Homo sapiens: one gene and its partner. The protein of the gene in region 1 purifies or fractionates together with the protein of each later gene. This does not show direct contact. Each region holds a gene or a part of one and is shown on either strand. Other genes may lie near its edges.

Region 1 (3,500 bases):
CCCCTTCCCCAGACCTTCCATGGCTGAGGACCTGGCTTCTGCATCCCCCATGTCACCTCACTGTGAAGATCCTCGAGGTGATTTATCATAAAGGATATCAATTAGAGCAGTGGTTTTCAAAAAATATTTCAAGAAGCCCTTTTCTTCTAATTAAATCTTACATAAAATACATTTAGAATGGATCAAAATGGAGGTGGCTCTGGTTGGAGTGCGCCCAGGGTCCCCCCCACCCCGACCCCACCACTCTGAAGATAATTGACCTCTTTGCTGAGGATACCCTCTTTGGAGCCCAGGACTTGCTGGAGCAGCTGAAAACATACACAGGCTAAAAGACCCTTTCTAACAGAACACCTTTCCAAGGCTAGAGAGGGAGGGTCCACCCAGGAAGGGCAGGGCCTACTCTGGCTAGGGAGCCCTGCTTAGGTTTGGAGTGAACATCACAGGTTAAGTTGAGAATAACTAGTGGGGAGCTCTGGCCTAGGGTAAATGCAAATGCAGTGATGGTTGGACAGGAACAGGTACATTTTCCAAGGGCTTCCGAAGCTACTCTATCAGAAGAGAGGTCAGGGTTTGGTAAAGAGATATTTAATGCACTAAGCAGGTTGGGGTTTCTCTCCATCTGGTGATGAGTGAGTGGGTGGCTTCCTGGGGAGGAGAGTGGTGGGCTCTCCTGGTGGGCTCCTGAGTTTGGGGATGGGAGTCAGCGGAGTAGCTCACCCACTTGCTCTCTCCAGCCTCAGGCTCTCCCTCACAACCCCCTCCCCAGGCCGCCCCTCACCTGCCAATGATGCTCTTGATCTGGGAATCCTTCTCTGCCTGCTGCTGCCTTAGCCTCTTCTCACTCTGCTCCAGTCGGGCCTGATACTGCATCAGGATTTTGCTGGTTTGTTCTTCCTGGGACAGCAGCCTCCGCTCATACTCTTCCAGCTTCCGGTTGGACATGTGCAGCCGCTCTTTCAGTGAGTGAATCTCCTCCTCGTACTCCTTCACCTGCCCGCCGGGCACACGACCCCGCACTATGAGGGGCGCCCCACCCCAAGCCCACCACCCAGCCTCCATCCCTGTCTGCCAAGCACAGCCACTGCATGTTGAGGGACATCCAGCTGCCTTCCCCAACCCCTTCCCTGCCTGTGGATCATATCCACACACCTGCTTTTGAGAAGACCCTGCCATGGTGCTGAGGTTCCCTCAAAATGGAGCAAGGTCACAGACTCCCACACCCTGAGGTCTATGTATGGCCCCTCATGAAGACCCACACAGAAACCTACACTCACAAACACACCTTGAGTAACTGTGCTCAGAAATTAAAAATAGGGTGACTCTTCAGCCCTAAGCCAGGCCCCAGAACACATGCTGGAGACATAGGAAGAAAAGGCAATTGACGGGGGAAAGGCAGGTGCTGTCCTCCATGTGACCCTCTCCTTGGCTCTGTCAAGGTGCCAAGGATAGGAGGTCTACAAGTGAATTCTAGGCTGAGAATCTAGGAATTCCAGAGCTGGAAGAGCTCAGAAGAGTCATTTTATCTGCCCTATTGGCTCTAGAGTCTACAGCTGTGCTGTCTAATATGGTAGCCACCAGCCCACATGTAGCTATTTAAAATTTAGGCCAGGCACAGTGGCTCAACACCTGTAATCCCAGCACTTTGGAAGGCTGAGGCAGGTAGATCACTTGAGCTCACAAGTTCTAGACCAGCCTGGGCAACATGGCAAAACCCCGTCTCTACAAAAAAAAAAAAAAAAAAAAAAGAAAAGAAAAAAAACTAGCCAGGCATGGTAGCACGACCCTGTAGTCCTAGCTACTCAGGGGGCTGAGGTGGGAGGATGTCTTGAGCCCAGGAGGCGGAGGTTGCCTCGAGCCATGTTTGCACCACTGCACTCCAGCCTGGGTGACAGAGCAAGACCCTGTCTCAAAAAAATTACAAAATTAAAATTAAATAGATCTAAAAATTCAGTTCCTGAATCACAACTAGACACATGTGAACACTACAGATTACAGAACATTTCATCACTGCAGAAAGTTATATTGGATAGTGCTAGTCTACAGCCTTTCTCAACAAGGTTTCCTCATCTGAAGCACAGAAAAAAAAATGATTCAAAAGACTATTTCCTCATTCTCTGAAGAGGATACATACATATATCACCAACCCTTCTACATGCAGAGGAGAGATGTGAATTAACTTCCTACGGTGGCTGCCTTGGGGCTAATATTAGGGTTTAATTCTCATTAAATTTGCTGGTCAAGCCCATCTGAGTCAGTCCCAACATTTCCTATGCTCAAAGACCACTTCCCCGTGTTAGGATCATATGTTCTTTATATATGACCTAATCCTGCAGCCGCCCTCTTCCTCAGGCCCTAGGAACAACAGCTTCCTCAAGTAACTTTCTGCTAAGTTATCTGTGTTAGCCCCAGAGCTCTTGGTGCCCTTTGCCCTCAGCCTCCACCAAGTGAGGGTCTGGATGGTCTTTTCACACATGACTGATACATACTACTTTACCACATGCATTCCCTGCCCACTGACTGTCACTTATGCCCATGGGACAGTGACTGGGTAGGCCAGACATCACTTGTAATATAGCTGCAACCCCCTCCATCCCCATCCAATTTATTAGCTCCTACTGCCAGTAAAGTAACATTTCCTTTCCTAAGCAGTCACAGGAGCCAGGGCTTATGTTCCTCCTGGGGAAGAACATGGAGGTAAGCCTAAAATAGATGATCCCCAGATAGTCTATGATATATATAACCTACAAAATAGAGTTGAAAGTGACTTTTAACAACTGTGTGTATCTGGTCTCCCCAGATGGACGGAAGGCTTCTCAAGAGGTGATCAGGTCTTTGCCTTTTCTTACCACCATAACTGACCCTGGAGGTTTCCCTTGGAAGTGACTAGAGATCTCCCCTGTGGGTAAAAGGAAACACTGGGGCTTGGAGCTGGTAGAGCCCATCGTACCCTATCCAGCCGGCTCTCATCCATCGATTTTGAGTACTCCTTGAGCTTGTACTCTTCCCGCTCGATGTGGGCACTCTCGATGTCAGCCGACAGGTGAGGCATGTTGGAGACCCAGGCCACTGTCCGCTCAGAGGCTGGCATTGTGGGGTTCAATGTGGATGGTGTCTGAGAATGCTGGGACAAGGCACAGTGAGGGCGAACAGAGAAAGAAAAGGTGGGAAAAAGCAGGGTACATTTAGAGGGCAACAGCACAGCCAAAGGAGACGACAGTCCCAGTCCTATTGCCCTGCTGTAGCCTTTATCACCTCTGAATGCCAGAGATGTGAGTTGAATGCCAGAGAATTTCTCCTGTTGTTCTGATTCAGGATCTGATCTTCATGCCTCCAAGCCCCCAGCTGGCCCTATTCCAGTCACCCCCATTCTACTTATGGATTAATCCCCTCTGGAATGAGAGTGCTAAGAGGGTTCAGTGCCGTATCCTTAGTGCCTGGCATAGCACATGGCACATAGCAGGCCCTCTATACACATTTGTTTAATGGCCAAAAGGAGGCAA
Region 2 (3,500 bases), on another chromosome or scaffold:
CGACCTTCACTTGATAAGACCTCTTGTGAGACCAGTCAGTGCAGAGTCAGCCAGTGATAATTGTTCTCTTTAAGGGGAGGCACATGTTTGGGGTACAGTGAACGTAGGTTGGAGCCTTAGTTTGAGCATTGGGAAAGTCAGTGGAATCAAAAGTCTGGTTCAAGTCCCTGCCCTGCCTTTTCTTCACTGAGTAACTTTGAGAAAGTTGTTTTACTTTTCTAAGCCTCATTTTTCTAATCTTTAAGTTAATGTCTAAAGTCCCTTTCAGCTATAGAATTGTCTTAGTGATCTTAGCCCTATGGTAAAAGATTCCAGTATAATTTAAGAATTTGGCCAAATGGTGTTTGTTTGTTTTTGTTTTTTTTTTTTTGTTTTTGTTTTTTTGAGGCAGGTTTTCCCTCTGTTGCCCAGGCTGGAGTGCAGTGACCCGATCTTGGCTCACTGCAACCTCTGCCTGCCAGGTTCAAGTGATTTTTGTGCCTCAGACTCCTGAGTAGCTGGGACCACAGGGATGCAGCACCATACCCAGCTAATTTTTGTATTTTTTGGTAGAGATGGGGTTTCACTATGTTGGCCAGGGTGGTCTCGAACTCCTGACCTCAAGTTATCCACCTGCCTCGGCCTCCCAAAGTGTTGGTATTACAGGTGTGAGCCACTGCACCTGGCCAAAAAAGTTTATTAGTACATGCGATTTTAAAACACCAGTCATATGAAATTATATCCCCTTAAATCACTGTGTCTAGGTTATACTGTGTCTAGGTTATACAACCTTATTGTTGAATTTTATTACCCAAACACTTGTTTTTTTGAGACCGAGTCTTGCTCTGTTGTCCAGGCTGCAGTGCAGTGGCATGATCACAGCTCACTGCCTCAACCTCCTGGGCTCAATCAGTCCTCTCACCTTAGCCTTCTTTGTATATGGGATTACCGGTGTGCCCTACCATGCCCAGGTAATTTTGATATTTTTTTTTTTTTGTAGAGACAGGGTTTCACCTTGTTTCCCAGGCTGGTCTTGAACTCAAGCAATCTACCCACCTTAGCCTCCCAAAGTGCTGATTATAGACATAAGCCACTGTACCACTTACCTTATTTAGAGCATTCTTCCTAAGGTCCTCCAGGTACTTTTCATTAGCTCTTTTTCCTGCCTGAAATACTCTTTCCCCGGAACTTATAACTGGCTCCTTTGGCTGTTCTAGTCTCTTAAGAGAGGCTGTTCCTGATCACCCAATCTAAAGTGAACACCATGTTTGCTTCTGTCATAATTCCTTATTTTAATTTTATTGTAGCATGTACTACTGCATGGTATGACATTTTATTTCTAGTCTTTTTTTTTTTTTTTTTTTTTTTTTTTTTTTGAGACAGGGTCTTACTTCTACATCCTCGAACTGGGCTCCACTTTTTTCATTATTAAATTGTATCTGGCATATGGCAGCAAGAACAGAAATGTCAGTTTCTGCTTGACTTTGGTATTGGGGCTTCTGATGGGGAAAAAAATTGAAACAAGGAAGTGAGGAGACTTCAGTGTAAATTTAGCTTGTCATTTCTCAGGAATCTTACGTATGTCATTTGTTACCTAGTCTTTTACAAATTAATAAAATGATTGCTGTTAGGATCTTGATTGATGATATCAAAACATGTTAATACCACACTTTTAATAGAAAATGTGGTAAATTATTGTGGTATAAAAAATGCAGGCCAGGTGCGGTGGCTCATGCCTGTAATCCTAGCACTTTGTGAGGCCGAGGTGGGCGGATCACCTGAGGTCAGGAGTTCGAGACCAGCCTGACCAACATGGAGAAACCTGTCTCTACTAAAAATAAAAAATTAGCCAGGCATGGTGACGCATGCCTGTAATCCCAGCTACTCGGGATGCTGAGGCAGGAGAATCGCTTGAACCTGGGAGGCAGAGGTTGCAGTGAGCCGAGATCGCGCCATTGCACTCTAGCCTGGGCAACAAGAGTGAAACTTCACCTCAAAAAATAAAATAAAATGCAAAAGGTACAAAAGAATATAGTAGTAAAAAGTAAATCCATATTTTTCATCCAGTCCCATTTATCAAAGGTAACTCTTGCCAGTTTTTGTGAATCCTTTCTAGAACTATTCTCTGCATCTATATAAGCACATTTTTTCCTTACTTTGCATAAATAAGACTGTTATATAGACAGCACATGCCTATATACCTTCGTCTTTTTTAATGACTGTATATCATTCCATCATAGGTGAACTCTGATGTATTTAGCATTTAGCTTGTTTCTCCCTTTTGCTATTACCATAAGGCTGGAGTACCCATCTTTTAAACCTTGCACGTGTTTTTGTACACATGTGGGAATAAATTTGTAGGATAAATTCCGCAAAGTGGAATTGTTGGTCTTGAAAATAATTGCATTTAAAATTTTGATATATATTAGTGGATAGATTTTTAAATCCTTAATATACCTCCAGTGGAAACTAAAACAAAGATATTATTTTAACTTACAAATCAAATAAGTATTTAAACTATGTTGGCATCATAAAATAAGGCTCCTGATAACATTTATGATGATTTAATAAATATTCCAGATATTGATTATAAAATTGTTTCTGTTGTAAATTAATAAACTTTTCATTTATGGAACACTGATGGTAGAAATCTACATTATTGGAAAACCAGTTGTCTTAGTCCATTTTCTGCTGCTATAACAATACTTGAGACTGGGTAATTTATAAAGAAAAAAATTTATTTGGTTCATGGTTCTGGAGGCTGAGAAGGGTGAGGGCCTTCTTGCTGTGTTATCCCATGGCAGAAGGCGAGGGTGAGAGAGAAAGCAAGAAAGGGTCGAACATGCCTTTTTTTTTTTTTCTAAAGGGACAGGGTCAGGTGCAGTGGTTCATGCCCATAATCCCAGCACTTTGGGAAGCTGAGGCTGGAGGATTTCATGAGACCAGGAGTTAGAGGCTGCAGCAAGCTATGATCATACCACTGCAATCCAGCCTGGGTGACAGAGCAAGACCCCATCTCAAAAAATAAGGAGTCGGGCCGGGCATGGTGGCTCATCCCTGTAATCCCAGTACTTTGGGAGGCTGAAGCAGGCAGATCACTTAAAGTCAAGAGTTCGAGATGAGCCTGGTCAGTATGGTGAAACCCTGTCTCTACTAAAAATACAAAAAAATATAGCTGGGCTTGGTGGCATACGCCTGTAGTTCTAGCTACTTGGGAGGCTGGGGTGGGAGAATTGCTTGAACCTGGGAGGTGGAGGTTGCAATGAGTCGAGATCGCGCCATTGCACTCCAGCCTGGGCCTCACAGTGAGACTCCATCTCAAAAACAACAACAACAACAACAACAAAAGGAGTCTTGCTACTATCTTACCCATGCTGGACTTGAACTCCCAGGCTCAAGGGATCCTCCCACTTACACCTGTAGCTGGGATTACAGGTGTACCCAGATGAACTCACATTTAAAACCAACCCACTCCTGCAATAAGGAACCCAGTCTTACCATAATGACGTTAATCCATTCAT

The links. Proteins that work in one complex are often made in the same cells at the same time.
Region 2: the proteins of SYNGAP1 (region 1) and ATP6V1D purify together in Homo sapiens (co-immunoprecipitation; 2 studies listed by BioGRID and IntAct, with this or other methods). This does not show direct contact.

Annotation. Positions count from the first base shown.
Region 1 is NC_000006.12:33,444,065-33,447,564, reverse strand, and holds part of SYNGAP1 (ras/Rap GTPase-activating protein SynGAP), read right to left. Parts: intron 3,122-3,500; coding exon 2,948-3,121; intron 991-2,947; coding exon 779-990; exon of another isoform or gene 767-778; intron 1-766. UniProt on the Homo sapiens protein: Major constituent of the PSD essential for postsynaptic signaling. Inhibitory regulator of the Ras-cAMP pathway.
Region 2 is NC_000014.9:67,353,305-67,356,804, reverse strand, and holds part of ATP6V1D (V-type proton ATPase subunit D), read left to right. Parts: intron 1-3,500. UniProt on the Homo sapiens protein: Subunit of the V1 complex of vacuolar(H+)-ATPase (V-ATPase), a multisubunit enzyme composed of a peripheral complex (V1) that hydrolyzes ATP and a membrane integral complex (V0) that translocates protons.